Linked DNA regions of Homo sapiens: regions 2, 3, 4, 5 and 6 are each linked to region 1. Evidence: fine-mapped expression QTL. A gene starts in region 1. Each other region holds a variant in brackets. All regions are shown on one strand. Distances are from middle to middle. Region 1 holds the start of ASRGL1 (asparaginase and isoaspartyl peptidase 1). Region 2 has its middle 12 kb from the start of SCGB1D4. Region 3 overlaps FADS3 (fatty acid desaturase 3). Region 4 has its middle 20 kb from the start of SCGB1A1. Region 5 overlaps RAB3IL1 (RAB3A interacting protein like 1). Region 6 has its middle 6.6 kb from the start of SCGB2A2.

What was found.
Region 2: its variant is fine-mapped to the expression of ASRGL1 in breast (GTEx, PIP 0.95).
Region 3: its variant is fine-mapped to the expression of ASRGL1 in spleen (GTEx, PIP 0.97).
Region 4: its variant is fine-mapped to the expression of ASRGL1 in whole blood (TOPMed, PIP above 0.99).
Region 5: its variant is fine-mapped to the expression of ASRGL1 in cerebellum (GTEx, PIP above 0.99).
Region 6: its variant is fine-mapped to the expression of ASRGL1 in whole blood (INTERVAL, PIP 0.96).

Annotation. Positions count from the first base shown.
Region 1 is chr11:62,334,595-62,339,666 of GRCh38, reverse strand. ASRGL1 (asparaginase and isoaspartyl peptidase 1) reads right to left here and starts at 2,219. Exons shown (of 7, transcript NM_001083926.2): 1 at 2,093-2,219; 2 at 1,500-1,777. The coding sequence starts at 1,689. RefSeq lists an enhancer at 1,639-2,308.
Region 2 is chr11:62,308,277-62,313,348 of GRCh38, reverse strand. No RefSeq gene overlaps it. Among named protein-coding and RNA genes, the nearest start is that of SCGB1D4, 12 kb to the right of the region's middle. The variant T/C (reference allele first, on the strand shown) is at 2,002.
Region 3 is chr11:61,881,799-61,886,870 of GRCh38, reverse strand. The region is part of intron 1 of FADS3 (fatty acid desaturase 3); the gene reads left to right. Among named protein-coding and RNA genes, the nearest start is that of MIR6746, 6.1 kb to the right of the region's middle. The variant C/T (reference allele first, on the strand shown) is at 2,315.
Region 4 is chr11:62,396,732-62,401,803 of GRCh38, reverse strand. It overlaps a transcript of ASRGL1 not described here. Among named protein-coding and RNA genes, the nearest start is that of SCGB1A1, 20 kb to the left of the region's middle. RefSeq lists enhancers at 2,906-3,550, 4,218-4,717, 4,718-5,072. The variant G/A (reference allele first, on the strand shown) is at 2,951.
Region 5 is chr11:61,892,660-61,897,731 of GRCh38, reverse strand. It overlaps RAB3IL1 (RAB3A interacting protein like 1), which reads left to right. Exons shown (of 10, transcript NM_013401.4): 10 at 1-431. Among named protein-coding and RNA genes, the nearest start is that of FADS3, 3.7 kb to the right of the region's middle. The variant G/A (reference allele first, on the strand shown) is at 2,756.
Region 6 is chr11:62,274,188-62,279,259 of GRCh38, reverse strand. No RefSeq gene overlaps it. Among named protein-coding and RNA genes, the nearest start is that of SCGB2A2, 6.6 kb to the right of the region's middle. The variant G/T (reference allele first, on the strand shown) is at 2,187.

The sequences.
Region 1 (5,072 bases):
GTGAATCATTTAATGTTCATTATGAGTTAACTTGAGTTAGTTTAACACAAGTTAACCAACTTAAGAGAGTTACATGATCAACTCATTTAATGTTCAGATTCAATAAATCAAGCAAATTTCTTAGACCACTGCCTGATACATGGTAGATACTCATATTAGCTATAATGATTAGTATTCCAAAAAAGGGTGGACTGAGTGAAAGAAGCGAAACACAAAGGAATACACTCTGCACTCCAAAGTTAACCTGAAAACTTTGGAACCTTGTCGGGGGAGGTAGGACATGCCTCATTATTCCCTCCTCCCTTTTGGAATTCAGGCCCAGCTGACCAGCACTAACATTAAAACAGATCTTAAGACTGACAAAGCAGACTTTGTAGCAATAAGATACCAAATTCCAGCGGGACTCTAGTATGACATCACATGACAGATAGCAAGCCCTGAAAGTGAAGTATTTTACCCCAAATTACGTTTCTTCGCCATATCTTGAAATAGTCCTGCAAAGCTAAAGCTATCTCTTGTGGGGAAAATCTACATTCTGAAGAGAATCCCCTTCCTTTTCTAGGCCTTTTTCCTGATTCAGGAGAGAATCAACTCTGATAAGAAACATTTACAATTTATTCTCTCAATAGACTGCTACCTGGAGACTTCCTCTGCCTAAGGGAAATCTTGGTCTCCTCAACCTCTTATCTTAATGCAGACATTCCCTTCTTTTTTCAGTTTTTTTTTTTTTTTTTGAGATAGTCTCGCTCTGTCGCCCAGGCTGGAGTGATCTCGGCTCACTGCAACCTCTGCCTCTCAGGTTCAAGCTATTCTCCTGCCTCGGCCTCCCGAGTAGCTGGGGTTACAGGCTCCTAGCACCACGCCTGGCTTTTTTTTTTTTTCTTTTGTATTTTTAGTAGAGGTGGCTTTTCACCTGTTAGCCAGGCTGGTCTCGAACTCCTGACCTCAGGTGATCCACCCGCCTTGGCCTCCCAAAGTGCTGGGATTACAGGCGTGAGCCACCGTGCTAAACCGCCTTCTATTAATTCTATCTGCAGCCACAAGTCCTTATATAATCCAGACATTCCCTTCTGTGGATTCCAGGTGTTTGGACAAAACTTTAAATCAATTGTTCATCAGAAAATCTTTGAATCTTAACTATGACCTGGAAACCACTCCCCCTCCCCCAGTAGTCTCACCTCTCCAGATGGAACCAATGTATGTCTTGTATGTACTGATTGACATCTTATGTCTCTCCAGAAGCACACATTCTCAGGATTTCCCAAGAGCTGTATCAGAGGCCATTGGTCACTCATATTTGCCTCAGTATAAATCTCTACAAATATTTTAGCGTTTGACTCTTTTCAGCACAGGTAGAAAAATTAAATATTGTTTCTTTTTTACATACTTAGTTTCACCCCAAAGCTCATTAGATTCCCTAACACTATGTAGGTTCTATTTATTCTGAAGAAGGAGCTTGACCTGACTCACATTATTTACTAGCTGAAAGGCACATTTACCTGCGTTGAACTCGGGATCGTCTTCCAGGGCGACGACAGCTCCCTCTACGGCATCCACGGCGCTCCCGCCCTCCCGGAGGATGCCGTAGCCCACGGTGGCGGCTCTGACCATGCCCTGGTGCACTCGCTCCTTCCGATCCTTGGAGATGGGACCGGCTCCGCCGCCGTGGACCACTACGATGGGATTCATGTCGGCGGATCCTAGGCAGCAGGAAGGCGAAAGCGTCGTCCAAAGCCAGCCCAAGGAAGCCGCGCGGGTACAAGGTCCTCGGGAGACCCTGTGGGGACAATGCCCAGTCTCTGTTCTGAACGGCTGGGTTCGCAGCTGGGGGTGGGTAGGGGCGGCTCGGTCGAGCTTGGTACGAAAAGCCCAGGGGCCCGGCGCCCTCCCGCGTTCCTCTCCGCCCCCGGCCCGGACCTGCTGGGGGTCTCAGTTTCCCCGGGGACGTTAACCCGCGCCCACCGCCGCCCGCCTCCAAGCCCCGGCGCCGAAGGAGGATGTCTATTTCGCCTTCGGGAAAATGTCTATTTTCGTTTATTTCATTCGCCCTCCCGCGTCTCGGGCGGCTGCTCCGGGAGGGCCGCCGACTTACCCAGGGCACCGCAGGACGCGGACGCCGAGACCTCAAGCTGGGTCGAGCCAGCCCCGCAGCCGCCCGGTACCGCCGCTCCCCGACGCCGGCTCGAAACCGCTCAGCCCGCAACCGCTCTGGTCACAACGGTTCTGCGCCTGCGCACGAGGGCGGGACCGCCGCACGGCCCAGTTCCCATAAAGCCCCGAAGGCCGGCTGGCGCGCACCTGTCTCACTCCTCTCAAGAGTCTACGCTCTTGGCCGGCCCGAGCTTCCTGGTGGCACGCGGGGAACCTCCTGCTCCTGACCAGGCTAGGGGCTGGGTGGTTGGGTTGGTGGCGAGAAGCGTGAAGTGGCATGCCACGATTTTGTAATTGCAGATTGAAAAGCAACGCTAGGCTGTGCGCAGTGGCTCATGCCTTGTAATCCCAGCACTTTGAGAGGCCGAGGCGGACGGATCACCTGAGGTCGGGAGTTCGAGACCAGCCTGACCAACACGGAGAAACCCTGTCCCTACTAAAAACACAAAATTAGCTGGGCGTGGTGGCGCATGCCTGTAATCCCAGCTACTCTGGAGGCTAAGGCACGAGAATCGTTTGAACCTGGGAGGCGGAGGTTGCGGTGAGTGGAAATCGCGCCATTGCACTCCAGCCTGGGCAACAAGAGTGAAACTCCGAATCAAAAGAAAAAAAAATTATACTGGGACAATGGGCATAAACAGGGACAGATCCAGGCAAACTGTGATTGATCTCCTGTGGATAGGAGAGTCCTTTCCCTTCTTGTTTACCCACAACTGATAACATATTTTACCACTCTTGGGAATTCCCTTTACTCCTGTTTTACCTTCGTTTCCTGCCTTAAGGCCCAGTTTAAATGAACCCCTCCTGCAAAGCCTTCTCCCTGGCACCCCACTAAGGATCAGTCATTCCCTTTCTAGTGACCTATTGTTAGAGATTACCACAAATTTATTGGCTTCAAACAACACACATTATCTTACAGTTCTGGTGGTCAGAAATTCAAACTGGGTCTGCAGGGTTGAGTTCCTTCGGGAAGCTCCAGAAGAGAATCTGTCTTTTCTTGCTTCTACAAGCTGCCTGTATCCTTGGCTCATGGCCTCATCCTCCATTGCCAAAGCCAACAGCCTAGCATCTTTAACTCTCTCTCCCTCTGGCCTGTTTCTGCTGCTACGTCACTTCTCTCTCTGTCACCATCATCACGATTTTCTTTTCTGACTCTGACTCTCCTGCCTCCTTCTTAAAGGAAGTCCCTTGGGATGACATTGGGCCCACCCAGATAACCCAGGATAATCTCCCTTTCTTACAATTTCTATTCTCATCTGCAAAGTCCCTTTTGCCATGTGAGGAGTGTTCACAGGTGGAGATTCGGATGTGACACCTTTGAGGGCCGTTATTCTGTCTCCCACACTCACCTCTTGGAAGAGGGTTATTTTAGCACGTCTCAACTGGTCGTGAGCCTAGTTGTGTCATCATAATACAGCTCACCATCATTTGGTTTCAGCTATTTATAGGAACCTGAACCCTACCCTATGCCTAGCCCTAACTCAAACCCCATCTCTACTGTTTTTCCTGATTGATCTGGAATTCAGTGATCTGGCTGAGGCTGGGGAAGGTGGCTGGTGGCCCAAGCAGGTAGAATGTTGGTTTCCATTTGATCCTCCCATCTCAGCCTCATGCGTTTATCTACTTCTCTGATGGGCTTCGTATTCCCCATCCCAATCCAAAGTCTCTTAGATAAATTCTCTAGAAAATAAACTTCTGGTCTTTGAGGAGGAAAGAGGAAGCATCTTTTTGTCCGGCTCTGTGGGATAGGAGAAGGAATCTGGCTAACTCCTCTGTAGACGATGTTCCATCAACAATCATTTTATGGATTAAGGATTGTATTCAACTGTCCCTGACGAAACGTGACCACAGTGGTTTAACCAGATAACTGTTGATTTGAAAACAACAATAACAACAACAACAACAACAACAACAACAAGACATCTAGTGGTTGCTGCCCAGGCTGGTGCAGCAGCTCCAAGGTGACACAGATGTCCCATCTCCTTCTCTTCCCTTCAGCATGTGGCTTTCACATTTATGGTGCTCCTAGGCACCTTGATCACTATTGGGGCAGAAGGAATGGGGAAGGGCAAAGGGAAGAAGGCTTTTGCCAGCTCCCCTTTGTTCCTTTAATTCAGGAAAGCTCTCTAGCTTTCCTAGAAGTCCTCCAAGTGGACTTTTATTGGCCAGAACTGGATTGGGGGGCTGCCCCTAGTGGCAAGAGAGTCTGAGTTTTTATTTTAGCAGGGTACATCATGGCCCTGGATAAAATCAAGGTCTCTTGGCAAGAAGGAAGGGTGACAGGCTATTGGAGAGACAACTGGGAACACCTGCCACTCCTGCCTCCCCATCTTTGAGATTCCTGTGTGTCTAAGCCCTGAGTCTCTCAAGCGTTCTCCAGAACAAATGGATTCACCTCTCAAGTAGATTACAACTTCCTTTAATCTGCCATTTGTTATTCATCTTCCAAAGTGACCTTTTTTACCTGCCATTGTCATCTCTCCCATTCTTCCTGTCTTTGTGGGTAGTATTCTTTTTAAGATTGTTTACTATCATTTTAGAGGGATTTTTGAAGGGAGGAGTAACCCATTTGTGTGACTGGGGAGGTTGACTAGAGCCCCAAGGAAGTGATTCTAACTACAGTGGCTCTGGATGTTCTAGGAGGAGGAGGGTTGGGTTAGGGAATGCCAGAGTTGGGGAGAGGAGGTGGGACCAGAAAAGGAGGGACTGGGCAGGGACTGGGCATTTCTGGGTCAGAAATGAAGGAGGCATATTAGAGAGATTGACGAAGAAGAAATGGGGGTGGGAGGGAGGAAGAGAAGAAAAAAAGAAAGAAGCAACTAACATTTCCTTCCTTTCCTTCCCTTCCTTCCCTTTCTTTCCTTTCTTTCTTTCTTCTTTGAGACGGAGTCTCGCTCTGTTGCCCAGGCTGGAGTATAGTG
Region 2 (5,072 bases), 26 kb after region 1:
TATAGAAAACCACCTTGAAACCACTGCCACCGAAGGTAACTGTATTAGGCTCCTGGCAGGAGAGAGCACACTCAGATCGAGGAGAAATACACAGGGGGACTCTTTACAAAGGTGTGGGCAGGAGGTAGGAAGCACAAGGGATAGAACAGTACCCTAGGACCAGAGCGACAGGGCTCTGTGACCACTCCTAGCCCTGAAGATATAAGGGAAATAAGCAGTTACCAGAACCTGGGGACAGAAAGAGCTCTGCAGAGGATGCTGCTTGATATGAGCTGTGGCCTTTGGTCAAGGGATGCTGCCACCTTACAAGGGGGGAGGTGGGGGAATAAAGACTTGATCTCTTTCTCCTCTCTCCCTCATCTCTCTCTCTCTTTCTGTCTGCCTGCCTGTCTGTCTCTCTCTCTCTTTTTTGAGACAGAGTAATGCTCTGTTGCCCAGGCTGGAGTACAGTGGCACGATCTTGGCTCACCGCAACCTCTGTCTCCTGGGTTCAAGCAATTCTCCCTGCCTCGGCCTCCCAAGTAGCTGACATTACAGGCACACCCACCACCCAGGCTAATTTTTGTATTTTTAGTAGAGACTAGGTTTTGCCATGTTGGTCAGGCTGGTCTCAAACTCCTGGACCTCAGGTGATCCGCCTGCGTTGGCCTCCCAAAGTGTTGGTATTACAGGTGTGAGCCATCGGGCCCAGGCTCTCTCCCTTATCTCTTGCCAGTGCTTCTCATTGGCCAAATCCAATTGGAATCCAGAGGGCAAAGGGGTCTGTCTTTGTAGAACACGCAGGTTAGCCCACCAGGTCCTGGAGCAAGATAGAGAATTATAAATTATGATGATAGGTGGGGTGGGTACCAATGCAAGACCTCCATCACAGTAGCCATCCTTGGAAACACAGAAGTAGGGAAGGAGGCCCCGTGCATCTGAGGAGAAGACTATGATAAGACTCTATGTATTTTGAGGGCTTAAATGATAAATGATTTCATTCTGGGGTGGGGGGCTGGTTACTGAGGAGGCAAGAAGGGTAGTTCTGGGTTCATGAGGTGGGAGGTGCTAGTCTTATTCTGGGCTGGCCTGGAAGGTAGAGTGTAGGGATTGGAAAGAATTAGTTGCCCTGAATTAAGACTTAACAGCCAGGCTGGATGTGGTGGCTCGTGTGTGTAATCCCAGCACTCTGGGAGTCCGAAGTGGGTGGATTGCTTGAGCCAGGAGTTTGAGATGAGGCTGGGCAACATGATGAGACCCCGTCTCTACAAAAAATACAAAAATTAGCCAGGTGTGGTGGCACACGCCTGTTGTCCCAGCTACTTGGAAGGCTGAGGTGGGAGAATCACCTGAGCCCGGTGAGGTTGAGGCTGCAGTGAGTTGTGATTGTGCCACTGCACTCCAGCAGGGATGACAGAATGAGACTCTATCTACAAAAAAAGAAAAGAAAAGAAATGAAACGAAAAGAAAAGAATTAAGGTCTTGCGATTGAGCATAAAATGGGGAATTACCCTGCCCCGAAAATGCTATCAAGGGCTACATGCCTCCTTCTACAGTACCAGCCGGAGCAGAGGACCCAGCGCGCTGTGGCACTTCCTCAGAGCAGAGCACACAGCCCGCTGCGGCACTTCCTTGTAATGTCCTTTTTTTTTTTTTTTTTTTTTTTTTTTTGATACGAAGTCTCGCTCTTGTCCCCCAGGTTGGAGTGCGATGGTGCGATCTTGGCTCACTGTAACTTCTGCCTCCCGGGTTCAAGCGATTCTCTTGCCTCAGCCTTCCAAGTAGCTGGGATTACAGGCACCTGCCACCACGCCCGGCTAATTTTTGTATTTTTAGTAGAGACGGAGTGTTCACCATGTTGACCTGGTTGGTCTCGAACTCCTGACTTCAGTTGATCTGCCCGCCTCGGCTTCCTAAAGTGCTGGGATTACAGGTGTGAGCAACCACGCCCAGCCCCGCAGGAGAGGCTCCACTTGATCTTGACCGGAGGAGTTCCAGCCACGGCAGGGATGCCGAGCAGTC[T/C]CCTGACCAGCAGGTGGTGCTGTGGCGCAGCGGCAGAGAGCACCGCGGGCCGGTCCTGTTGAATGTCTCTGGGGCTGCCTCATGTTTGTGGGTAACAGAGGCAGAGGAACTTCAACCTGAAAGCCCTGGACTTCATTGCCACACACAGAGTGGGATGCCCATTTCCTGAAGATTAACTTTCACGGGGAAAAAGCTACTGCAGCCGGTGGCCAGGACTCGGCCAGAGACTCAGATGAGCTACTGTGTGGTGAATGTGTAACTCTCCAGGACAACTTCTGCTCTGCTGGCAGCCCTCACCCACCCGGCCCAGGCAGCGCATCTGGATGGGAAATGTGCCCCTTGCTCTCCCTCTCTTTCTCCTTGTCCCTTCCCAGAACATGGACATGATGATTGGAGCTCTGGCATTCTTAGAATATGAGGCCACCTTGAGTATTGAAACCATAAACTGAGTAGGGTAAAATTCAGACACAGAAAAAAGAGCCTGGAGCCTGGGAAATTGATTATTATGGGGTCAGTGTACCAACTTTACACTGCCTACTCCCAGATTTCTTTTAAATAAAAGAAGAGAAACCGGCTGGGCGCGGTGGCTCACGCCTGAAATCCCAGCACTTTGGGAGGCCGAAGCAAGTGGATCACCTGAGGTTGGGAGTTTGAGACCAGCCTGGCCAACATGGTGAAACCCCATCTCTATTAAAAATACAAAGTTAGCCAGCCATGGTGGCATGTGCCTGCAATACCAGCTACTCTGGAGGCTGAGGCAGGAGAATGGCTTGAACCCTGGAGGTGGAGGTTGCAGTGAGCCGAGATCGCACGATTGGACTCCAGCCTGGGCAACAAGGGCAAAACTCCGTCTCAAACAAAACAAAACAAAACAAAACAAAACAAAACAAAAACAAAAAAGAAACCACTATCTTGTTTATGTCAGTCATTTGGGTGTTATTTGTAGCCAAACATATTTCTAACTGATACACGTAGCCTGATGCGGTTTGGATCTGTGTCCCAACCCAAATCTCATATTGAAATGTAATCCCCAGGGCTGAAGGTGGGGCCTGGTAGGAGGTGATTGGATCATAGGGGTGGTTTCTCATGGTTTAACGTCATTTCCCCTTGGTGCTGTTGTCACAATAGTGAGTTCTCCTGAGATCTAGTCGTTTAAAAGTGTGTGGCCCCTCCCCCCAACTTGGTCCTGCTCTTGCCATGTAAGATGCCTGTTCCCACTTTGGCTTCCGCCACGTCTAAAAGCTCCCTGAAACCTCGAAGCAGATGCCACCAGCTTCCTGTGCAGCCTGCAGAACTGTAAGTCAATTAAACCTCTTTCCTTTATAAATTACCCAGTCTCAGGTATTTCTTCACAGCAGTGTGAAAATGGACTAATACACAGCCTAATACGACTTGTCACACAAAACCTTTCTGTGGACAGAATCTTAAAGAAAGAACTTCAGTAAGAAGAGAAATAAAACCAGAATGCTGATATGAGAGGTGTGGGAAAGCAAATATTTTAGTAAAGTTTATTGTTTTCCAAGAAAACAAGAACTAATAAAAGAGAAAGTGAACTGAGATGACCGGGGATTAATTTTAGATGTCGTGAAATGTTGAGGATGGAGGTATAACGTAGGAGTGATTGAAGGGAGGTGAGACTGAGCTAGTGCACTTATTTTATTTGGGGAACAACACAGGTACTAATAAGTTAAAGGATTGATGGAAAAATTATACCTATATATAGGTCAGTAAGTAAGGGACAATCACCAGAACAGCAAAAATACAATGCATAACTTTCGAACCAGCAGAATGAAATTAGTCCATAGTAGGAACATTTAAAAAGTGCTGGAAGTAGAAAATGTAAAGTGGCAGAATTAAACTCTAATGTAAGCAAGAAAGTTAGAAAAAAGTATAGGAAACAGAAAACAAAATGAGGTGAGAGAAAGGTGCTCAACACCACTGATCATCAGAGAAATGCAAATCAAAAGCTGCAATGAGATATCATCTCATCCCAGTTAAAATGGCTTATATCTAGAAGACAGACAATAACAAATGCTGGAGGGGATGTGGAGAAAAGGAGACCCTCATACACTGTAGGCATGAGTGTAAATTAGCACAACTATTATGGAGAAGAGTTTGATGGTTCCTCAAAAAACTAAAAATAGAGCTACTATATGATTCAGCAATCCCACTTCTAAGTATATACCCAAAAGAAAGGAATTGTTATATTGAAAAGATATCTGCACTCCCATGTTTGTTGCAGCACTGTTCACAATACCCAAGATTTGGAAGCAACCTAAGTGTTCATCAACAGAAGAATGGGTAAAGAAAATGTGGTACATATACACAATGGATACTATTTAACCATTAAAAAGATGAGATCCTGTCATTTGCAACAACATAGATGAAATTGGATATCGTTACATTAAGTAAAATAAACCAGGCACAAAAAGACAAATATTTCATGTTGTCACTTGTTTGTGGGATTTAAAATCAAAACAATTGAACTAATGGAGATAAGAGAGTAGAAGGAATGGTAGTAGAGGAGTGGGTGGGGGGAAGTGAGGATGGTTAATGGGTACAAAACAATAGAAAGAATGAATAAGACCTACTACTTGATAGCACACAGGGTGACCATAGTCAATAATAATTTAACCAAACTTAAAAATAACTAAAATAGGCTGGGCGCGGTGGCTCACGCCTGTAATCCCAGCACTTTGGGAGGCTGAGGCAGGTGGATCATGAGGTCAGGAGATTGACACCATCCTGGCTAACACAGTGAAACCCCATCTCTACTAAAAATACAAAAAATTAGCCGGGCGTGGTGGCAGGCGCCTGTAGTCCCAGCTACTGGGGAGGCTGAGGGACGAGAATGGTGTGAACCCAGGAGATGGAGCTTGCAGTGAGCCGAGATGGCGCCACTGCACTCCAGCCTGGGTGACAGAGCGAGACTCCATCTCAAAACAAACAAACAAACAAACAAACAAAAAAACTAAAATAGTATAATTGGATTGTTTGTAACACAAAGGATAAGCACTTGAGAGGATAAATACCCCATTTTCCTTTATGTGATTATTATGAATTGGATGCCT
Region 3 (5,072 bases), 450 kb after region 1:
GGAGGAGGGAGTGGCCAGTGCTGCAGCAGAGGCTGCTTCATAGTAATTGCAGCCAACAGTTATTGACTAGGCACTGTTCTGAGGGGTTTAGATGTGGTAACTGATTGAATTCGCCTAACAACTTTATGAGGTAAGTCCTATTGTTAGCCCATTTTGTAGATGAGGAGACTGAGTTTGAAACTGGGGGGTGTAATGGAACCTTCTCAGGACCCTTGAAGGGTAGGGCCTTTGTACTCGGGCCACGAGGGTGGGGTTTGTGTCTGGGTGGGAGCTGGGGAGGGACAGGACTAGGATTAGGCAGATCTGAGGCCACAGGAGTTGGTTGGGGGGTGGCTCCAGAGCCACTCCACTCCCTCCTACCACATTGACTGCCTTGAAAGTCCCCTAATGGCCACTCCCATGAAGTGTGACTGCTCTGGGCTCCCCGCAGGCGTTTTCTGCAAGGCCACCGCCCACCCAGGCCCCTTCCCCAGAGGGGCTGCAGTGCCTTGCTCCTTCCTTGTGGGAAGAGTTGGGATTGTCTGGCGTCAGCAGGATACTGCCCCTGGGCATCCCTCCCGGTCTCTTCCTGCGGGTTTCTGATGAAACAGCCAGGCTCCAGTAGTGGAGCCAGAGGTCAGTGGTGGAGAGAGGACCAGGAGCCAGAGGGTATAGCTGCTTTGGGGCTACTGTGGGGTCAGGGACACTTGTGAGGCCAAGCGTCCTGGCTGCAGGAGCCCTCACATATATGCCCACCCTTCACCAGGACATTGAGGGGTGCTGGGGGACAGGGGTAGCTTTTTGGGGGTGTCTGCCTTCGACTTGGGCTCCGCTACACAGGCCAAATTTGGATGTCCCATGTTTAGAGCTGTGTTTCTTTGGGACCTCTTGGGGCCTCAGTTTCCTCATCTGTAAAATGGGATACTGATAGTGCTTCCCCACTGGCCTCCTCTGACGGGCGCCAGGGAGAGGATGGGACGGAGCATGGTGTGCTGGGCACGCTCCTGCTGTACCCACCCACCTGGGAGAGGGGAGAGGCAGGAATGTCCTGGGGGTGTCCTTTGAGGCATAGCCCTGTCACCCCAACATCCTACAAAGGCATGAGAAGGCAGCGAGGACAGACCCCGACCACCTGAGCCCTCAGCAGCCCTGCCACACTCCCTGCTTCACCCCCTTCCTGACTGATCTGGCACATTCTTGATTCTCCTAGGGAGTGACCCAAAATCCCTCCCTGCCCTGCTGTGTCTCTGGGGTGGAAGGAGGCTGCCAGCCCCTCCTCTCTCCCAGCCTCAGGCTTGGCCAGGACTTAACAGGCAGGCAGAGAAGCAGCTTCTCCACTCTCTTCCCTGACACCTGTAGGCCCCTCCTGCAGGCACTTACCTCTAAGTGGACTCTCAGGAGGAGGCTCATCAGGGCTGCAGGGCTCAGAAAGAGCTGGGCTGTGGAGCTCTTGCCAACCGCCAGGCCCCTTCTAAGTGCTTTAGCGCCACCGACTGCATCCTCCCAGCAGCCTTGTGAGATGGGGATTTGTGGTTCCCAGTTTACTGATGAGAAATACTGATGAGAGATGGGTGTGGTCTTGTCTGGGGCTCCCTGGCTCCTGGATAGCAGCTCAGGTTCCATCCTGGGCAGGCTGGCTCTGGGACACCCCCCCGACCAGCTGCTGTGTGGGATTCACGGTGGGGCTTGGGCAGGGCGTGGGATCTTGGGGCCAACTGAGCCACTCTAGGCTTCCAGGGACCAAGGCCAGGCTGAGCTGTCTCTGTATCCTGAGAGAGCATGAACATCACAGAAGATGGGCCCGGGTTCGAATCCCAGCTCTGCCACTACTAACTGGGACCTGGGCAGGTGTCCCTTCCCGCTGAGCCTTCATTTCCTCACCAGCAAAATGGTTCGTGCCCCTGCTTTGGGGGCTGTGGAGGGTTGGCTCTTGTCTACTTGTTCATACCTGCTGTTGAGCAGCTGCTCTGTGCCGGCCTCTGAGGATGCCACTGTGAACAGAGCCTGTCGCTACCTCCAGGAGCTTGTGTTTAGGGGTGCCGTTTTGATTCCAGCACTTTCACCCAGCTCTGCTCCGGTACCCGATGAGAGACGTCGAGTGCCGCTTTCCACTCGCTTGGGTGCGTGTGGGGGTTGGGGGGACAGGGCTTTGTGCACGTACCCCTGGGTGGATGTTCCTGGGTGCACTTAGGGTGTGTGAGGGTGGGACCTCCCACAGTTCCCTGAGGCTCCACTGATGAGGTCCAAGAACCGCCTTCCTGCCCCCCAGCCCAGGCTCCCAGCAGCTGGGCCCTTGGCTTCTTGAGATAGTGACTGGCCTCACGGCAAGGACCCC[C/T]GCACACCACCTAGGAGAACTGCTGCTTCCCCTCTGTTCCAGGAGTGGCGACAAGCACAGTTTTTCGCTTTTGTTTTTGTTTTCTTCACTTTAAGTTCCGGGAAACGTGCAGAATGTGCAGGTTTGTTACATAGGTATACATGTGCCATGGTGGTTTGCTGCACCCGTCAACCCCTCATCTAGGTTTTAAGCTCCATATACATTAGGCATTTGTCCTAATGCTCTCCCTCCCCTTGCCCCTCACCCGCCCAGTAAGCCCCGGTGTGTGATGTTCCCTTCCCTGTGTCCATGTGTTCTCATTGTTCAACTCTCACTTATGAGTGAGAAGAGACCTGGACTCTGATCTAACCTCGGTCAAATGGAACTGTGTGACCTTGAAGAAGTAGCTTAACCTCTCTGAGTCTTAGCTTCTGCCTGGCACCCCCATCCTTAAGGAGAGGCCCACAGAGGACCAGGTCACATGACCTCAGCCAGTTCCAGAGAAGGCTGTTTGCTTCCAGGTTTCGGCCTGAGTCCAGGCCCCTGCCCTACTCGCACTCCCTGATAGCATGAGAAGCACAGCCCCAGGGTGCCCACCCAGCTCTGAGAGCCCAGCCTGCTTCCCAGGGAACTGTCACAGCCCCACCTGTCCCTTCCCCAGCTGGAGCCCTGTCAATGGCTTTGGGGTTCTCTGACACAGCCCTGAGGGGGCTCACACTTCCCCTTATCATTGCAAGGGGTAGATCTGGCTTGAAGGCCCTGGGGCAGGCTTGGTTCTGTCCTCCCCTGTCAGTGCCTCGACAGGGCTGGCCTGGGTGAATCAGGACCAACGGGAAAGGAGGCGAGGAGACCAATCTGGACCCAAGATCCTCAGCTCAATAAGGTGGCCCCAGAACTGACATGGGGTGATAGAGGGAAGGGCTGGGAGGGAGGAGATTCTGGGGCCGCAGCCACAGCTTGCACGTTGCGCCGGGTGTGTCTGTGCGTGCCAGCTGCATCTTTGCGTACCATGTGTGCAAGGCTGTGTTTGGCTGAGTGTTCATGTGGGCCGTGATTGTGGGCATGTTTCTGAGTGTCTGAGTGATGCCTGCTGGTGTGGGCTGGTGGGTGTGTCTGCATGTGCGTGTGTGTCTGGGGAGTTTCAAAGGAGAAAGAGGGACTCACCATCACGCTGGCTCAGCCTTAAAAAGGTAGGACATCCTGACACGTGCTGCAACATGGATGGACCTTAAGGACATTGTGCTGAGTGAAACAAGCCAGAGGCAAAGGAACAAACATGTGATTTCTCCCAGATGAGGTTTCCGGAGGAGGCAGATCTGTATGGACAGAAGGTAGCATGGTGGTTGCCGGGGCAGGGGGAGGAGAGAATGGAGAATTAGTGTTTAATGGGGACAGAGTTTCAGTTGGGGAAGGTGAAAAGGTTCTGGAGCTGGATGATGGTGATGGTTGGACAACACTGTGCATGCACTTAATACCACTGAGCTGGACACCTAAAAATGCTTACAATGGTAAATTTCATGTATATTTTACTACAATTTTTAAAAAATTGGCTGGGCGTGGTGGCTTATGCCTGTAATCCCAACACTTTGGGAGGCCAAGGCGGGAGGATTGCTTGAGCTCAGGAGTTCAACACCAGCCTGGGCAATATGGTGAAACCCCGACTCTACGAAATATACAAAAATTAGCCTGGTGTGGTGGCTTGCACCTCTAATCCCACCTACTCAGTAGGCTAAGGCACAAGAATCTCTTGAACCTGGGAGGTGGAGGTTGCAGTAAGCCGAGATCATGCCACTGCAACCCAGTCTGGGCGACAGAGCAAGACTCTGTCTCAAAAAATAAAAGATAAATAAAAAAATTAGAGGCCAGGTGTGGCTCACACCTGTACTCTCAACACTTTGGGAGGCTGAGGTGGGAGGATCGCTTGAAGTCAGGCATTTAAGACATGCCTAGGCAACATAGTGAGACCTTGACTCTACAAAAAAATTCAAAAGTTAATGAGACATGGTGGCATGTGCCTGTAGTCCTAGCTGCTGGGGAGGCTGAGGTGGGAGGATCACTTACGACCAGGATTTCAAGGCTGCAGTGAGCTGTGATTGCATCACTGCACTCCAGCCTGGTGACAGAGTGAGGCCCTGTCTCAAAAAAATTTTTCAGTGTTTTTCTGGGCTGGGCGTGGTGGCTCATTCCTGTAATTCCAGCACTTTGGGAGGCTGAGGTGGGTGGATTGCTTGAGCCCAGGAGTTTAAGACCAGCTGGGCAACATGGCAAACCTCATCTCTACAAAAAATAAAAATAAAAAATTAGCTGGGCATGGTGGTGCACACCTGTACTAACAGCTACGAGAGAGGCTAAGGTGGGAGGATCACCTGAGCCCGGGAGGTTGAGGCTGCAGTGAGCCATGATTGCACCACTGCACTCTAGCCTGGGCGATACAGCAAGACCCTATCTCAAAAAAAAAAAAAAAAAAAAAAAAAAAAAACACCCAGTGGGGTCAGTAGAACCCCAAGAGTCTTCTTCCCTCCCAGCTCCCCTGTACACCAGCCCCAGCTCTGCAGGTAGCTGGGGGCCCAGACAGCTTCCTGGGGACCCCCAGCCTTCCCTCTGCCCTTTTTTCTACCAGTTTTGCTGCCCCTCCTTCAAGACTCATGTCCAGAGGGGGTGAGATCTGCACTTATACAGCCCCCTCCTCTGTAATGAGTGAGCCAAGTCAGCCCAGGTTATTCCAGAAGGGGCACCCTACCAGCCCCCCAGTCCCCAAGCTGCCCTGGGCCTATAAAAG
Region 4 (5,072 bases), 62 kb before region 1:
TCAGCTTCTCACCACCCCCACATTTGCTCCCTCCACCCCAACTCTTGTTCTCATGGAGCCCTGCCCTCTCTCTTCCTGCAGGCCCTGACCTGCTGGGGACCCTCCCGTAAGAGCTTCACCAGTGATTGGGAGCTGAGCTCTTGTCCTCAAAGGCAGGGGAGGGAGAGAGGGCAAGGGGACCCCAACCCTGTGAAGTCACTGGTGCAGATGGAGTTGCCCTGTAGGCTGTGGGGTTAGGAGGGGTGGTGGGCAGGGCTGGCTGTGTTTCCCAGGCCTCAGGGTGGGCTTGCCTCAACCAGGCACCTTCGCAGCCAGGGCTGAAGCACCTGTAATCCCGCCTTCCTCAGGACAAGTGAAGGACGCATCTAGGGATTCATTCTTTCATTTCACAGATATTTATTGCACATGGTGCCGGAGAATGGCTATGAGCAAGACAGAGGTGGTCTCTGTTCTCAAGGCAGCTACAGAGGGACAGCCACTCCCCCAGCCCCCAACTATGAGCTTCCCAGAACTGGCCTGAAGGTGCAGCTGCAATGATACGGGCTCACATCCTGGCATCCTCATTTGCTAGCGTGAAAATCGCATTTCTCCAAACCTCGGTTTTCTCATCTGAAAAACAGGCACAGCACCTAGTTTGCAGGACTGGGAAAGTTACAGAGGGTTAATGGCAATGCGGTTGGCCTTGGGCACTCCTTGTTCTGACCTCTGGAGTTCGGCTGCCCTGTGGTCTGGCCCTGGCTCTGTGGAGAGGCTTTCCCAGGCCGAGGGGCTCACCAGGCCTTCCCTAGTGAGGAGCTCTTTCTGCCAGAGCTGAGCTCATGGGCAGGGCGGGGCGCAGAGGCCACATATCAGCCAGCTGTCCTCCCTTTCCTGGGAGCTGGTCCAGAGACGAGGGGCAGGGCGTCTGGTTTTCATTGTGCGGCCGTCTCTAATTCCTCTGGCATCTGAGCTACTTTTCAGAAGGAGGGAGATGCACTTAACTGGTTGTGACCCAGCTTGGTGCTGAGGAAGAAGCCCTGGGCCTGGGATCAAGCAGAGTTGAACTCGAAGCCTGCCTCAGCCACTTACCTGCTGTGTGACGCGGGTAAGGCACTCCACAGCACTGAGTGTCAGGGGCCCCGATTGGAAAATGGCAATGATGATTTCTGCCCTGGCTACTCCACAAAGTAGAAATAGATGCAAACGTGTTTCATAAAACATAAAATATGAAGCTGGGGTTCTCCTCTGTGTTAATAGCATGGAGGGTTGGGGTTCTGCCCAGTGCCCAAGCCTTGCACAGAAATAGCCGCGCCCCTGCTGGTCCATGTGTCCAAAATGGTTAAAGCAACTTTGGGTCCATGGAACAGAGGTGCATTTCAGAAGCTGCTGGCTGGTGACCATGAGGAGGGCCAGGGCTCAGAAAAGGAACGGCTCACTCTGGTTGGTATGGTTAATAAAATAATAGCTAACATTTACCGACGGCTTATGAAGGGGCAGGCACACTTCTGAGAACTTTCCAGTTGTTAATCAATCCTCATAACAACCCTCTCAGAGAGGTTACTACTGTTCCCCCTGTGAGGACCTTTGAGGGAGGAAAGGCATTTCTGGAGAGGGAATTGGGTGTGCAAAGGCCTGGGGAGCCCCTCATATCCTGGGGGGCAGTGGGGGACCCGGCCTACAGCCAGGAGGGGCTGGCCTATGGGGCCTTGAAAGTCGGCCAAGGGGTTTAGACTGGATCCAGGCAGCAGGAGGAATCCCTGGAGCCCCCTGCGTGACCTCATTCTGGAGGATGGGTGGGATAGCGCTTCTGGGAGGGGCTGTGATGGACTGGTGTGGGTGGAGAGTTCAGGGAAGGAGGTGGGATTTCCTTATTCTTGGGTCTTCATCCTTGAGCACAGGCCCAGCTGCCACCCTAGTGGCCGCCACGGGCAGCCTCGATGCTGAGATGGGCTCAAAAGCCAGGCTGTGTGTGGTATGGGGTCTCAGAGCCCAGGCAGGGCCAGGGTGGCACCAAATGGCCTGCAGCTTAGTCCTGATGCTGCTTGTGCCCTAGCCCTCACAGGTAGCTCTCCAGGGGCCAACTGTACCCCATCCTGGGAGCTGACCCCAGGAAGGTCAGGGCAGTGCTGCCCGCTGGGTCCTAGAGGTGCCTGGAACATCTTGCTCACACCAGCAGGACACTCATGCCTTCCCCATCTGAGCCCGCTGCAGGCAGACCCTGGCCAGGGGCTGGCTGAGTTGGGGAGGGGGCAGGAGGGCCGTAGCCATGGTGGTTAGAGACAGGAGCAGTGTTGGTACCCTTTCTCTCAAATAAAATGAAGCCCCTTGCCAGGGAGGCCACTGTAGAGCTGGCACGAAGGAGGCTTCCTGTCTGAAGGAGCTGGTGCAGACACACCGGTGGGGCACCCGGCAGAACAACAGCAGAAGATCTGCAATCACACGAACTGGCTGCCTGTTCTCTACACGAGTCCAAGTGAGAACTCTGGGCTGGGAATGCTAAGGAGGCGAGTGTGGGGAGAATTCTCAGTTCTGCAGGGTGCCTTGCCCTGAGTCCTGACCCTTTGTGCTTGAGAGCAGTGGACAAATATGTTGGAAGTTCTTTTTTTTTGAGTTGGAGTTTTGTTCTTGTCGCCCAGGCTGGAGTGCAGTGGCATGATCCTGGCTCACTTCAACCTCTGCCTCCCGGGTTCAAGCAATTCTCCTGCCTCAGTCTCCTGAGTAGCTGGGACTACAGGCATGTGCCACCACGCCCAGTTAATTTTGTATTTTAGTAGACACGGGGTTTTGCACCACCACGTCCAGCTAATTCTGTATTTTTAGTAGACACGGGGTTTCACCATGTTGGCCAGGTTGGTCTTCAACTCCTAACCTCAGGTCATCTGCCTGTCTTGGCCTCCCAAAGAACTGAGATTACAGGCATGAGTCACTGCGCCTGGCCATATATTGGAATTTCTAGGGAAGACAGGGAAAG[G/A]GCTTGGGGAAAGTGATGGACTTTTAGTCATGAGGCATCCAGGGTGTGATATTTGTGCCAAAGCCAGAGATAAGACAACAAAGATGGCCCGGAAGATTGTGAGGCCTGACAGAGAAAGGCCAGATCTGGGGTGAGGTCACCGGGGAGACATGCCGGCCTGCAATGAGCCGCCGCCGCTAGCGGGAGTGGGCCCAGGGGAGGGGCGGGGAGCAGATGGGAGGAGGAGGGGAACTGGCCTTGGTGTTTCTTACTTTTAAAAAAGATGAAATACTTGGTGTCTGCAAAGAAAGTTGGGAGAATTTGGGGGTTCGAGCCCCCGGGGATCTTCACTGGGTAGCCAGGGAATGTGGTTCTATGCCCGAGGTAAATGTTCCTGGATTTGGTGTGAGTGGCCTCCACCTGGGGTAATTTGTAAACACTTCTGAAAGTGGCCCTTTGGCCAACAAGCACGTGGGGTAGCTCTGGCTCCTAGCTGTGTGGGAAAGGCTGAGGTGAGGGGAGCTGGGAAGGGAGCACACACGCTTTTTGTATGAGGGGAAGTGACCTGGGAAGAGGCCGCTGAGGAAGGGTGGGGGCAGGTCCTTTCCTGGTGGTGGCGCAGGGTGGACTTGCTCCCCACCTGCTCTTCTCACTCCAAGTCACCCTTTGCCAAACTTCTGGGTGGGGCCTTGTGCTTTGGCACAACCCATATTTCCCTTTCCAAACCCTCCCCAGCCCACAGGCCAGCGCTGCATGGCTCCTGCGGTGGCAGGGTGTCGACATTTCTGTTTGAAATGGTCGGCCTGGCCCCCAGCGCCTGTGGTGGTGTTCAGCCAGGTGCTTCCCTCACTCAACGAGGGGCAGCCTGACAAGCAGAAGATGCGACGCCGAGGGGCCCGGGGCCCTAACTACCCAGCAAGCAGTGCCAGTAAGAAAGGTGCTGGATTTGAACAATTCTGCTAAAAAGACAATTTTTGAGAAAACTGGGGAAATTTGAATATTGACCAAATATTAGGTAAGGTGAACATTTCTTGGCAAGCAATGGTGGAGAGTGTTAACTGAAACATACATGGCATGGTCTCACTTTTGAAAAAATAATTATGCATATACACACCCAGAAAAAGATCTGCAAGAATATACAGTAAGATTTTAATAGTGATATTCACTGGCTGATAGGAAATTTTTCCCGTGGTTTTTTTTTTTTTTTTTTGAGACGGAGTTTGATTCTTGTTGTCCAGGCTGGAGTGCAATGGCGTGATCTTGGCTCACCACAGTCTCCACCTTCCGGGTTCAAGTGATTCTCCTGCCTCAGCCTCTCCAGTAGCTGCGATTACAGGCATGCATCACCATGCCCGGCTAATTTTGTATTTTTAGTAGAGACGGGGTTTCTCCATGTTGGTCAGACTGGTCTCGAACCCTGACCTCAGGTGATCTGCCCGCTTCAGCCTCCCAAAGTGCTGGGATTACAAGCATGAGCCACCATGCCCAGCGTCCCCCATTTTTTGTTGTTTTTTTCTCACATGTGCTTTACATTTTTCATTATTCTTGGCCGGGCACGGTGGCTCACGCCTGTAATCCCAGCACTTTGGGAGGCCGAGGTGGGAGGATCACGAGGTCAAGAAATCAAGACTATCCTGATCAACATGGTGAAACTCCATCTCTACTAAAAATACAAAAATTAGCTGGGCGTGGTGGCGTGTGCCTGTGGTCCCAGCCACTCGGGAGGCTGAGGCAGGAGAATCGCTTGAACCCAGGAGACGGAGGTTGCAGTGAGCCAAGATCGCGCCACTGCACTCCAGCCTGGGTAACAGAGTGAGACTCCGTCTCAAAAAAAACAAACAAAAAAGTTTAATAACAAACTGCTGCCCTGCAAGGTGACAATCCAGGGCCAAGGCGGGCAGGCATGAGGCCGGTGGCTGCTGAGAGGAGCCTCAGTATTACAGAGATAGGACAGGAAGACTCAACCTCTTTTCTCCTTGGCTGCCTGCTGTGGATAAGAACTCTAACACTTATCTGAGTTCTGCACATGATCCAGAAAGTGCTGATAATTGCATAGCAAAAAAGTTAACTCTTGAGATGATCAGTGATTAAAAAAAAAAAAATCACCCCAGGCTGGTTTCCCCTATCAGCAGAGTCCATGGCT
Region 5 (5,072 bases), 440 kb after region 1:
TGCCCCAAAGCCTTGTTAAGATGAGTCAAGACCCCTCCCCCGCTTCCTCCCTTCCTTTCCCCCTTCCTCCCTCCCCCTTCATAAAGGCCTCCCTTGTCACCTTCCCTCCCACCCCGTCTCAGCCCTGTGCTCCTGGAGGCCCTGCTCCCAAAACCGCTGGAAGGACTGGGGCACTTTCTGCCACAGTAGAACACAGACAGGGCTTCAGATCACCCACGCCTGTTTTCAGCTGTGGGTGGCCATGCAGACACGCGCCCTGGCATGTGGGGCCTGGGTGGGCAGGCAGGACCTGGGCCCTCCCACCCATCAGAGCCCACTCAGGACCAGCGTTCGGAGCTCCCACCTGGACGCATCCCTCACCACGTCCGGATTTCCTTCTTTGGATGGAATGTAACGCGATCTCTATTTAATAAAGGCAGGCTTTGTTGGTACAGGCTGGGTGGCCACGCGCCCTCACTCCTGCACCCTGGGGCTCTGGCCAAGGCTTGGGCATCTGAAGGAATGAAACCAAATCCTTTCCCTGCCCGCCCTCGTGCTTGGGATTAAACCCAAATCCTGAAGCCACCCCACCTCCGCCATCACCACTTACTTGCTGTGGGGAGGACTATTTGAGTCCTCCCTTAGTATTCAGAGGGCTGTGGGTTACTGGGGGATGAGCCAGGCCTCCCTCTCCCCGTGGCTGGTGGCCTGCTGTTGGGAAGAACGGCACCAAGGCTGGCTCTCCCACTGCCTCACTGTGGCACCTTGGCCAGGTCCTCCCCTGGGTCTCCTTGCATCCAGCAATGGTTACCTCCAGTCTCACAGAAGCCTGCAGCTCAGAGGCAAAGCATCGAGGCTGCCTGTTGCTCAGTGGGACAGTGGCAGGATTGATTGGTGATGTCTGCTGGAAGCACAGGCGGGGACCATGGAAGCCCAGGTCTTAGACGAGCTCTCAGCAAGGGGCAGCAGTCACAGTTGGAAGAGGTGGGGGTGGCCAGGACCTCTGAGGACCCAGAGTGGGGCTGGGAAGGTGTCTTGTGGTGGCTGAGCCCCTCCCCACCTGTAGGGATGTGGGCCCAGGCCAATAGATGCCTTCTTGGGGTGGTGGAGAGCATAGCAGCTTCTGAGTCGGGTCAGTATCTACTGGGCTGGTGACACCTTGTGGGGACTTCCGTATTGGCCTGAGGCCTTGGTGCCACTCAGCTGGTAGGTCAGGCTAGCTGTGGACTGGCCAGGACCACAGGAAGCCCTCCACCCATGCTGGGGACACCTGTGCTTGAGCTGAGAATGTCCAGGGGGAAGACTGGCAATCAAAAACATACCAGGAACACGCACAGGGCATCAGATGGAAGAGAGGAAAGCAGGCAGGCAAAGGAGGATGTCAGAAAAGGGCGCAAGAGGCTGTGTTCACTGCTGTGATCCCCACAGCCTCTCTTGCGTGGCAGTCGCTTTCTCTCCTCTCTGTCAGTCCTGGGTCAGCTGGGGGGCCAAAGGAAGTTGGAGGTCTGGGCCCTGGAGCTGTCCACCCTACCCCCAGCTTCTGTGCTCCTGGCCCAGCAACACTGAAGACCTAGGAGACACCAGACCACACTCCAGGGGCCAGGCAGAGGGTCCCATACCCCAGACCCGCGCTGCCTGCCCCTGCAATGGCATAGCCTGCTGTCAGACCCCAAGTGGGGTCATAAACAGAGAACTGAAATGCCTGGAGGATGGACATACACTCTCAGTATCTCCCAACGAGAGATAATAGCTGAGCACTGACTGTGCCAGGCATGATTCTAAACCCTTTAAATGATCTAATTCATTTCATCCTCACAGCAACCTTATAGAGTACTATTCTCCCATTTTGCAGATGAGTAGAATGAGGCACACAGAAGTGCCACAGAGGAAATGATGGCCCCGGGATAGGAATCATGAGGCCAGCCCTGGAGCCCACAGTATGAACCAGCATCCTGGATTCCCTTTCCTAGACACCTGCAATGTGCTTAAAGGTGGCTGGGGAGGGTTAGCCGACATCAGCCACGAGGGAGTTGTTCCTCTTAAATGGATTTTCTAGATAACCCACTTGGGCCTCTCTGAGTACCCCTGGCACATGTGAACATTTTAACCCTCTTTGGCCCCCTCTTCAAACCTAGCAACGACTCTGGCCTCTGAGGGTGGAGGCGCTGAGCCGAGACCAGCTGCGCACTGGCGTGCTTCACTCCTGCAGGATGCTTTCCAGTCTGCCAAGACTGTCCTGATGGAACTCCTGCCGGGGCTGTGCACCTGGGCAAAGTCGCTCCTCTCTGGGCTTCAGTTTCCTCATCTGTGAGTTGGAAATATAGGACTAAATGGCTTTCGCAGCCTCCTTGCCTTTTTCATTTTATTACGGTAAAAAACCCATAACTTGTACTACCTTAACTCTTTTTTTTTAATTGTTGTTTTTGTTTTGTTTTGTTTTGAGACGGAGTCTCACTCTGTCACCCAGGCTGGAGTGCGGTGGCGCAATCTAGGCTTACTGCAATCTCCGCCTCCCGGGTTGAAGCAATTCTCCTGCCCCAGCCTCTCAAGTAGCTGGGTCTACAGGCATGAGCCCCTATGCCCAGCTAATTTTTTGTGTGTGAATTTTTTTTTTTTTTTCAGTAGAGACGGGGTTTTACCATGTTGGCCAGGCTGGTCTTGAACTCCTGACCTCAAGTGATCCGCCCGCCTCAGCCTCCCACAGTGCTGGGATTACAGGTGTGAGCCACTGTGCCTGGCCCTCCCTTAACCATTTTTAAGTGTATAGTTCAGTAGT[G/A]CTAAGTCCATTTACAGTGTTCCGAAACATCTCCAGAACATTTTCATTTCACAAAACTGAGACTCTGTACCCATTAATCAACCCTCTATTTCCACCTCCTCCCAGCCCCAGGCAACCCCCATTCTACTTTCTATGAATTTCACTGCACGAGGGCCCTCATTTAAGTGGATGATGCAGTATTTGTCCTCTCATTACTGGCTTCTTTCACTTCATGTCCTCAGTGTCCATCTGTTGTAGCATGTGACAGGATTTCCTTCCTTTTTAAGACTGAATAATATTCCATTGTATGCATAGACCACGTTTTATTTTTTATTTTTAATTTTATTATATTATAATTAATTATTACTCCAGGCTGGAGTGCAATGGTGCGATCTCGGCTCACCGCAACCTCCACCTCCTGGGTTCAAGCCTTTCTCCTGCCTCAGCCTCCTGAGTAGCTGGGATTACAGGCATGCGCCACCATGCCTGGCTAATTTTTGTATTTTTAGTAGAGACAGGGTTTCTCCATGTTGGCCATGATGGTCTCAAACTCCTGATCTCAGGTGATCCGCCCGCCTCAGCCTCCCAAAGTGCTGGGATTACAGGTGTGAGCCACCGCGCCTGGCCTGACCACGTTTTGTTTATCCAGTGTCTGTGGATGGACAGTTGTGCTGCCTCACAATGACCTCTTGGCCATTGTGAATAATGCTGCTAAGAAAATAGATGTACAAATATCTCCTCAAGACTCTGCTTTCGGTTCTTTTGGGTATATGCCCAGAAATGGAATTGCTGAATCATAGGCATTTTAAAGCCATTTTCATACTCTTTTCTATAGTTGGCTATAGCACTTCACATTCTTACCCACAATGCACAAGGGTTCTGCATCATTGCCAACACGTGTGATTTGATTTTTTGAGACCAGGTCTCCCTCTGTAGCCCAGGCTGGAGTACAATGGCATGATCTTGGGGCACTACAACCTCTGCTTCCCAGGCTCAAGCGATCCTCCTACCTCAGCCTCCTAAGTAGCTGGGACTACAGGCGCACGCACCACCATGCCCTGCTAGTTTTTTTTTTTTTTTTTTTGTAGAAATAGGGTTTTGTCATGTTGCCCAGGCTGGTCTCGAACCCCTAGGCTCAAGAGATCCTCCCAAAGTGCTGGGATTACAGGCGTGAACCACCATGCCTGGCATGATTTTTTCATTTATGTATTTATTTATTAAAGACGGGGTTCCTGCTATGTTGCCGAGGCTGGTCTTGAACTCCAGGGCTCAAGCAATCCTCCTGCCTCGGCCTCCCAAAGTGGTGGGATTCCAGGCCTTTTTCTTTTTTATAGGAGCCCTCCTAACAAGTGTGAGACAGTATTTCATTGTGGTTTCATTTGCAGCTCTCTGATGATTAGCAATGCTGAGCACCTTTTCGTGTGTGTGTTGCCCATTTGTGTGCAGCCCCTCTTTCCTGAGGAGCATTCTGAGGAGCTCCGCCTGGCCTCCACAGTGATCCCTTCGAGGAGGACTTGGCCAATAGGGCTGTGATCCCTGCCCTCACTCACGGCTCTTGCATGATTCTGTGGCCCCCCCTTCATCTTCCCCATCTCTTCTGGGGGCAGCTGGGGAAAGTGGAGGTTCTAACCTATCACAACCCCCAACCACCTCACACACAGGGGCTGAGACCAGGCCAGGGCTGGCTCCAAGGAAGAAGCCCCTAGGATGGCCACATCTGACCACTCAGGGCTGCTGAAGGTGGGGCCAGGGCCAGGTCCATGCCTTCAGTGGATTTTGGTGCAGGGGATGCATTCCTTCAAGAATCTGCCTTCTCCATTCCTGTGCTGTGTGAACATGGTACGGGGTAGGGGTGCCTGCAGCCCCCTTGGGCCAGGGCCACCAGCCATGCTCTTGCACCCCCACACACATGTGCCAGGTTGGGGTTCCAGGATATGGTCAGTGGGTGCCTCAGTGGAGAGGGCCCAGGCAGCCCCGGTGCCTGATGACATCATGGGCCTTGCTGGATGTCCTGACAAGCAAAGGCAGGAGCTCCTGGTACCAGGGAGAACTCGCCCCCTCTGCCCTTCTGGGGATACTGGTCCTCTTTAGACCAAGACAAAATATTAGCATATCAGAGAAATATACTTAGGGTTTTCTAAGTGCATTTCCCCAACCAGCCGGTCAGCATCACCTGTGAACTGGCCATGTAAGTCTCTGCCTCCACACCAGACCCACCGAATAACCCTCCTGGGTGGTTCTGATGGAAGCCTTTCAGGTGGTTCTGATGGAAGATTGACGACCAGCGCTCTGGAAGTAACTTTAGCCTGATTTGAATTCCTTGCTGCTGTGAACGCTT
Region 6 (5,072 bases), 60 kb after region 1:
AGGCGCCCCTCACCTCCCAGACGGGGCGGCTGGCCGGGCGGAGGGCTGACCCCCCCACCTCCCTCCCGGACAGGGCGGCTGGCCGGGCGGGGGGCTGACCCCCCCACCTCCCTCCCGGACGGGGCGGCTGGCCAGGCGGGGGGCTGACCCCCCCACCTCCCTCCCGGACGGGGCGGCTGGCCGGGTGGGGGGGCTGACCCCCCCATCTCCCTCCCGGACGGGGTGGCTGGCCGGGCTGAGGGGCTCCTCACTTCCCAGTAGGGGCGGCCGGGCAGAGGCGCCCCTCACCTCCCGGACGGGGCGGCTGGCCGGGCGGGGGGCTGACCCCCCCACCTCCCTCCCGGATGGCACAGCTGGCCGGGCGGGGGGGCTGACCCCCCACCTCCCTCCCGGATGGGGCGGCTGGCCGGGTGGGGGGCTGACCCCCCCCCACCTCCCTCCCGGACGGGGTGGCTGCTGGGCGGAGATGCTCCTCACTTCCCAGATGGGGTGGCTGCCGGGCGGAGAGGCTCCTCACTTCTCAGACGGGGCAGCTGCCGGGCGGAGGGGCTCCTCACTTCTCAGACGGGGTGGTTGCCAGGCAGAGGGTCTCCTCACTTCTCAGACGGGGCGGCCGGGCAGAGACGCTCCTCACCTCCCAGACGGGGTCTCGGCCGGGCAGAGGCGCTCCTCACATCCCAGATGGGGCGGCGGGGCAGAGGCGCTCCCCACATCTCAGACGATGGGCGGCCGGGCAGAGACGCTCCTCACTTCCTAGATGTGATGGCGGCTGGGAAGAGGTGCTCCTCACTTCCTAGATGGGATGGCAGCCGGGCGGAGACGCTCCTCACTTTCCAGACTGGGCAGCCAGGCAGAGGGGCTCCTCACATCCCAGACGATGGGCGGCCAGGCAGAGACACTCCTCACTTCCCAGACGGGGTGGCGGCCGGGCAGAGGCTGCAATCTCGGCACTTTGGGAGGCCAAGGCAGGCGGCTGGGAGGTGTAGGTTGTAGTGAGCCGAGATCACGCCACTGCACTCCAGCATGGGCACCATTGAGCACTGAGTGAACGAGACTCCGTCTGCAATCCCGGCACCTCGGGAGGCCGAGGTTGGCGGATCACTCGCGGTTAGGGGCTGGAGACCGGCCCGGCCAACACAGCGAAACCCTGTCTCCACCAAAACCAGTCAGGCGTGGCGGCGCGTGCCTGCAATCGCAGGCACTCGGCAGACTGAGGCAGGAGAATCAGGCAGGGAGGATGCAGTGAGCCGAGATGGCAGCAGTACAGTCCAGCTTCGGCTCCGCATGAGAGGGAGACCGTGGGGAGAGGGAGAGCGAGAGGGAGACGGAGAGCGAGAGGGAGACGGAGACGGAGAGCGAGAGGGAGAGGGAGAGGGGGAGGGGGAGGGGGAGGGGGAGGGGGAGGGAGAGGGAGAGGGCTGAGGTGTGTTTTTAAAAGGATGTTAGCTTTTAATTAAGCTGACTTTTAACCACTGAGCTCCTTTAAAAATCTCTTTATAATTCTCATTACCATATTTCAACTAGGACAAATTGCAGCTATTTCAGAACTGCCAAGTATTAAGCCAGAAAAAAACTTGATTTAGGAACTAACCCAGGTTGTAAACTGCTTTTTGGGTTTTGAGAACTGTCTGTGTTGATTGCTTCAAAATTGGTAGGGCCTGGGGACATAGGGAACTAACCACACCCTTAATTAAGAAGGTAAACCTTGGCTGCACTTAGCACACAATTAAAGCAACTTACCAGATTTTACCTTAACAGTAACAATTTGTAGGAGTTACTATTATATCATGTAATTGAAACTACTGAAAATAGATTTTCATGCAAGGTGTTTAAAAACAGTAAAATGTGTTCTCTAGTAAAAGATTACAAGAAGGCGTGGAAATGTAAACTGTTGCCTAGGGTTAAAGAATAGTTTTTCTTTTTTTTGTTTCTTTTTTTTTTTGAGACGGAGTCTTGCTCTGTTGCCAGGCTGGAGTGCAGTGGTGCAATCTCAGCTTACTGCAATCTCCACCTTCTGAGTCCAAGCGATTCTCCTGCTTCAGCCTCCTGAGTACCTGGGATTACAGGTGTGCTTCACCACACCCAGCTAATTTTTGTATTTTTAGTAGAGATGGGGTTTCACCATGTTGACCAGGATGGTCTTGATCTCCTGACCTTGTGATCTGCTCGCCTTGGCCTCCCAAAGT[G/T]CTGGGATCACAGATGTGAGCCACTGCACCCAGCTGATAGTTTTAAATTAGATAGGAAAAATCTGAAGGTTCAAAGAAGTGGTGGAAGAATTGTGGAAATTAATTTTGCATAAGAGGTTCTCTATGTAAAAATATTGACTAAATTTAAAAAATGGGTTATTTTATGGTTTTTCTGTAAATTGAGCATTGAAATAAAAGCATAACAAGGTCTTCCTAAGACACTAATCTGCTCTTTGGCAAAATCTGTAAAGGGCAATAAAAGGTTTTTGCTTCTTTAAAATTTCTGAATCATGATTTTGGAAACATAAAAAACTTATAATAATCTGCAATTCTATTTTATAATATCAAGTGTTTTAAACCTCGAACATTTAACAGCCTTCCCAAAATCAAACTTCAGTTTCAAAATTGTCTTCCCTTGCACTTAGCTTTTTGAATACTTCAGAAGGCCCCTGAAGTGTCCAGAAAAGAGAGGCAAACAGGATTATTTGACATTCCTCTAGGAAGCAAAAGAGCATTGTCCCCAACCATCCCAGCAGGAGGCAGGAGTAGAGAAGGGTTTATCCACTGTCCCTGCTTGCCCATACCTCACAACCCAGGGCTGGACACAGACACTAACGACAATTTCAATAAGTATTTAATGACTCATTATCATTTAGCAGCAGGGAGTTTAATTTTCAGTGATTGGCGAATTTCTTGTCATTCGGCTCTTGATTTTTCATTGGACTCAATTATGGTCACAGAACAGGGTTTGTATGATCTGTATTTTCAAACTGCTAACACAGATGATGCAACTCCAGCCGCTTGGAGTCCTGGACCCGCACAACCTCACTCAGTGGTCTCTAGACACCACATCCAGCCCCTGACGTTGAGGTTGGGCCCTGGGCTGGTCTCTACGTAGGTGCCCGGCTCCTCCCACAGCTCTCCACACAGTCAGTGCTGAGACCAGAGCCATTGATGACTGGTGTCTCTGCCAGGTACCACTCCTGTCTTCAGTCTCCAGGCCTCTTCATTAAGCCCTGCCTCAGTGCCTCAGCATCCACCCTACAGGATGTTGAAAATTTTCATCCCATTGAGGAATTACCCAGGAGATAGTCCCTCAAATAATATCTTGTCAAATAATGTCCAGGAGTGATTTCCTCTGAACAGTGCTCTGAATGTTCAGTTTTTCCCTACATGGGAAAACACTGACAAGCCCCTACACTGTTGAAGCCAATCTGCTCCTCCTAGGCACCACCTCCGAAAAAGCTGAACTCATCGCCCTCACTTAAGCTCTCACTCTAGCAACCAGACAACAGATGAATATACATTCAAATTCTCATTATGTGTTCCACGTAGTGCTCACACTCATCCATCTGGAAAGAATGGGGTTTCCTAACTGCAAAAAGCACTCCTGTCATAAATGGCTCTCTCATCAGCAAGCTCCTTCAAGCTTCCAAGCTCCCACAGAAAGTTGCCATCATTCATTGCAGAGGCCACCAAACCCCAGACAATCCTATATCGGCTGGAAATGAGCCAGCAGATCAGGTAGCCAAAAAAGTAGCCCTACATCCCATGCAAGGCCAGTTTCTGTCCTTGTCCTTGTTCTCTTCTCTTTACTCCTCACAAGAAAAGGAGGACTTCCAAGCCCCAAACCTTCAAAAGCAATGACCATGGTATGTCAAGGAAGGGTGCTTCACTCTCCCTCACTCTCAAAGCCTTCCTCACCTCCAAACCTCCACAAATATTTCCATGTCAGTTACAAACCTCTCCTGCAACTTCTCTGCCCTATCCTCACTTCTCCTCACCTTTCCAGCTGTGTTCAAGAGATTACCCAGTCCTGCTGTATCTGCCTCTCAGTGTCACCCCAAGGTTCTTTCTGGCCACTGCCTTTTCCTACCCACCAAGCCTGAGGCCAGGTACCCGGGCAAGATTGGCCGGTAGACTTCACCCACAAGCCACCTGATAAATTGCTCCACTATCTTCTGGTTTTTGTCTGTACTTTCTCCAGGTAGGTAGGAGCATTCCCAATAACTTCAGAAGGTACAAATATCATCACGCAAATGCTCATCATGCATATAATTGCCCATTTTGGACTCCCAACATCCATCCAGTCTGATAACAGGCCCACTTTCATCAGCCAAATCACCCAAGGTGTCTCTACATCTTTAAAAATAAAGTAAGTTCTCCACACACCCTACAGGCCTCAATCTTCACGCAAAGTTGAAAAAATGAACTCTGTCCTTAAAGCCCAACTCACCAAGCTGCTTCTAGAAACCCCCCAGTCGTGGACAAAAAATCTCCCTTTTACCCTCATGAGACTCCACGCAACACCAAAAGCACCCTCTTTCTATAGTCCCTTTGAAATCATGTATGGCCAAACTTTTGTCTTGGGGCCTCCACCCTTACCAGACTCTGAGCCACTCAGGAATTATTCCCCTTCTTAATCCAGACATGGTCTTTCATTCGTGAAGCAGCAAATGAGGCCATGCCTCTCCCTGTTGACACCTCCTTGTCCTCTCAACATAACTGTTTTGCAGGCACAGACACCTTTCCAGACAATCCAGATGATGCTCCTGCTACAATGACATGGTGGATACCAACCTGTCTCTCAAGAATAGCCCCAAAATTAAGTTTTTCTTTTTCCAAGGTGCCCATGCCACCCCATGTCACACCTGAAGTGGTTATTGAGAAAGTCGTCCTTTTTCCATAACCAAATAGACAGCAATGTAAAATTCTCCCCAGGGCCTGAAAGCTTAAGGAGATGAGCTCCCCACTTCTCAGGCTCAGTCCCAAGGCACAAGGCTACTTGTGCTAGTGGGGTGCACCAGCAAGATAGCAGAAGCAGGAAGAGAGCCGGCCGGAAGACACATACCCCTGAAGACGGAGAAAGAGGCCATCCAGATATAA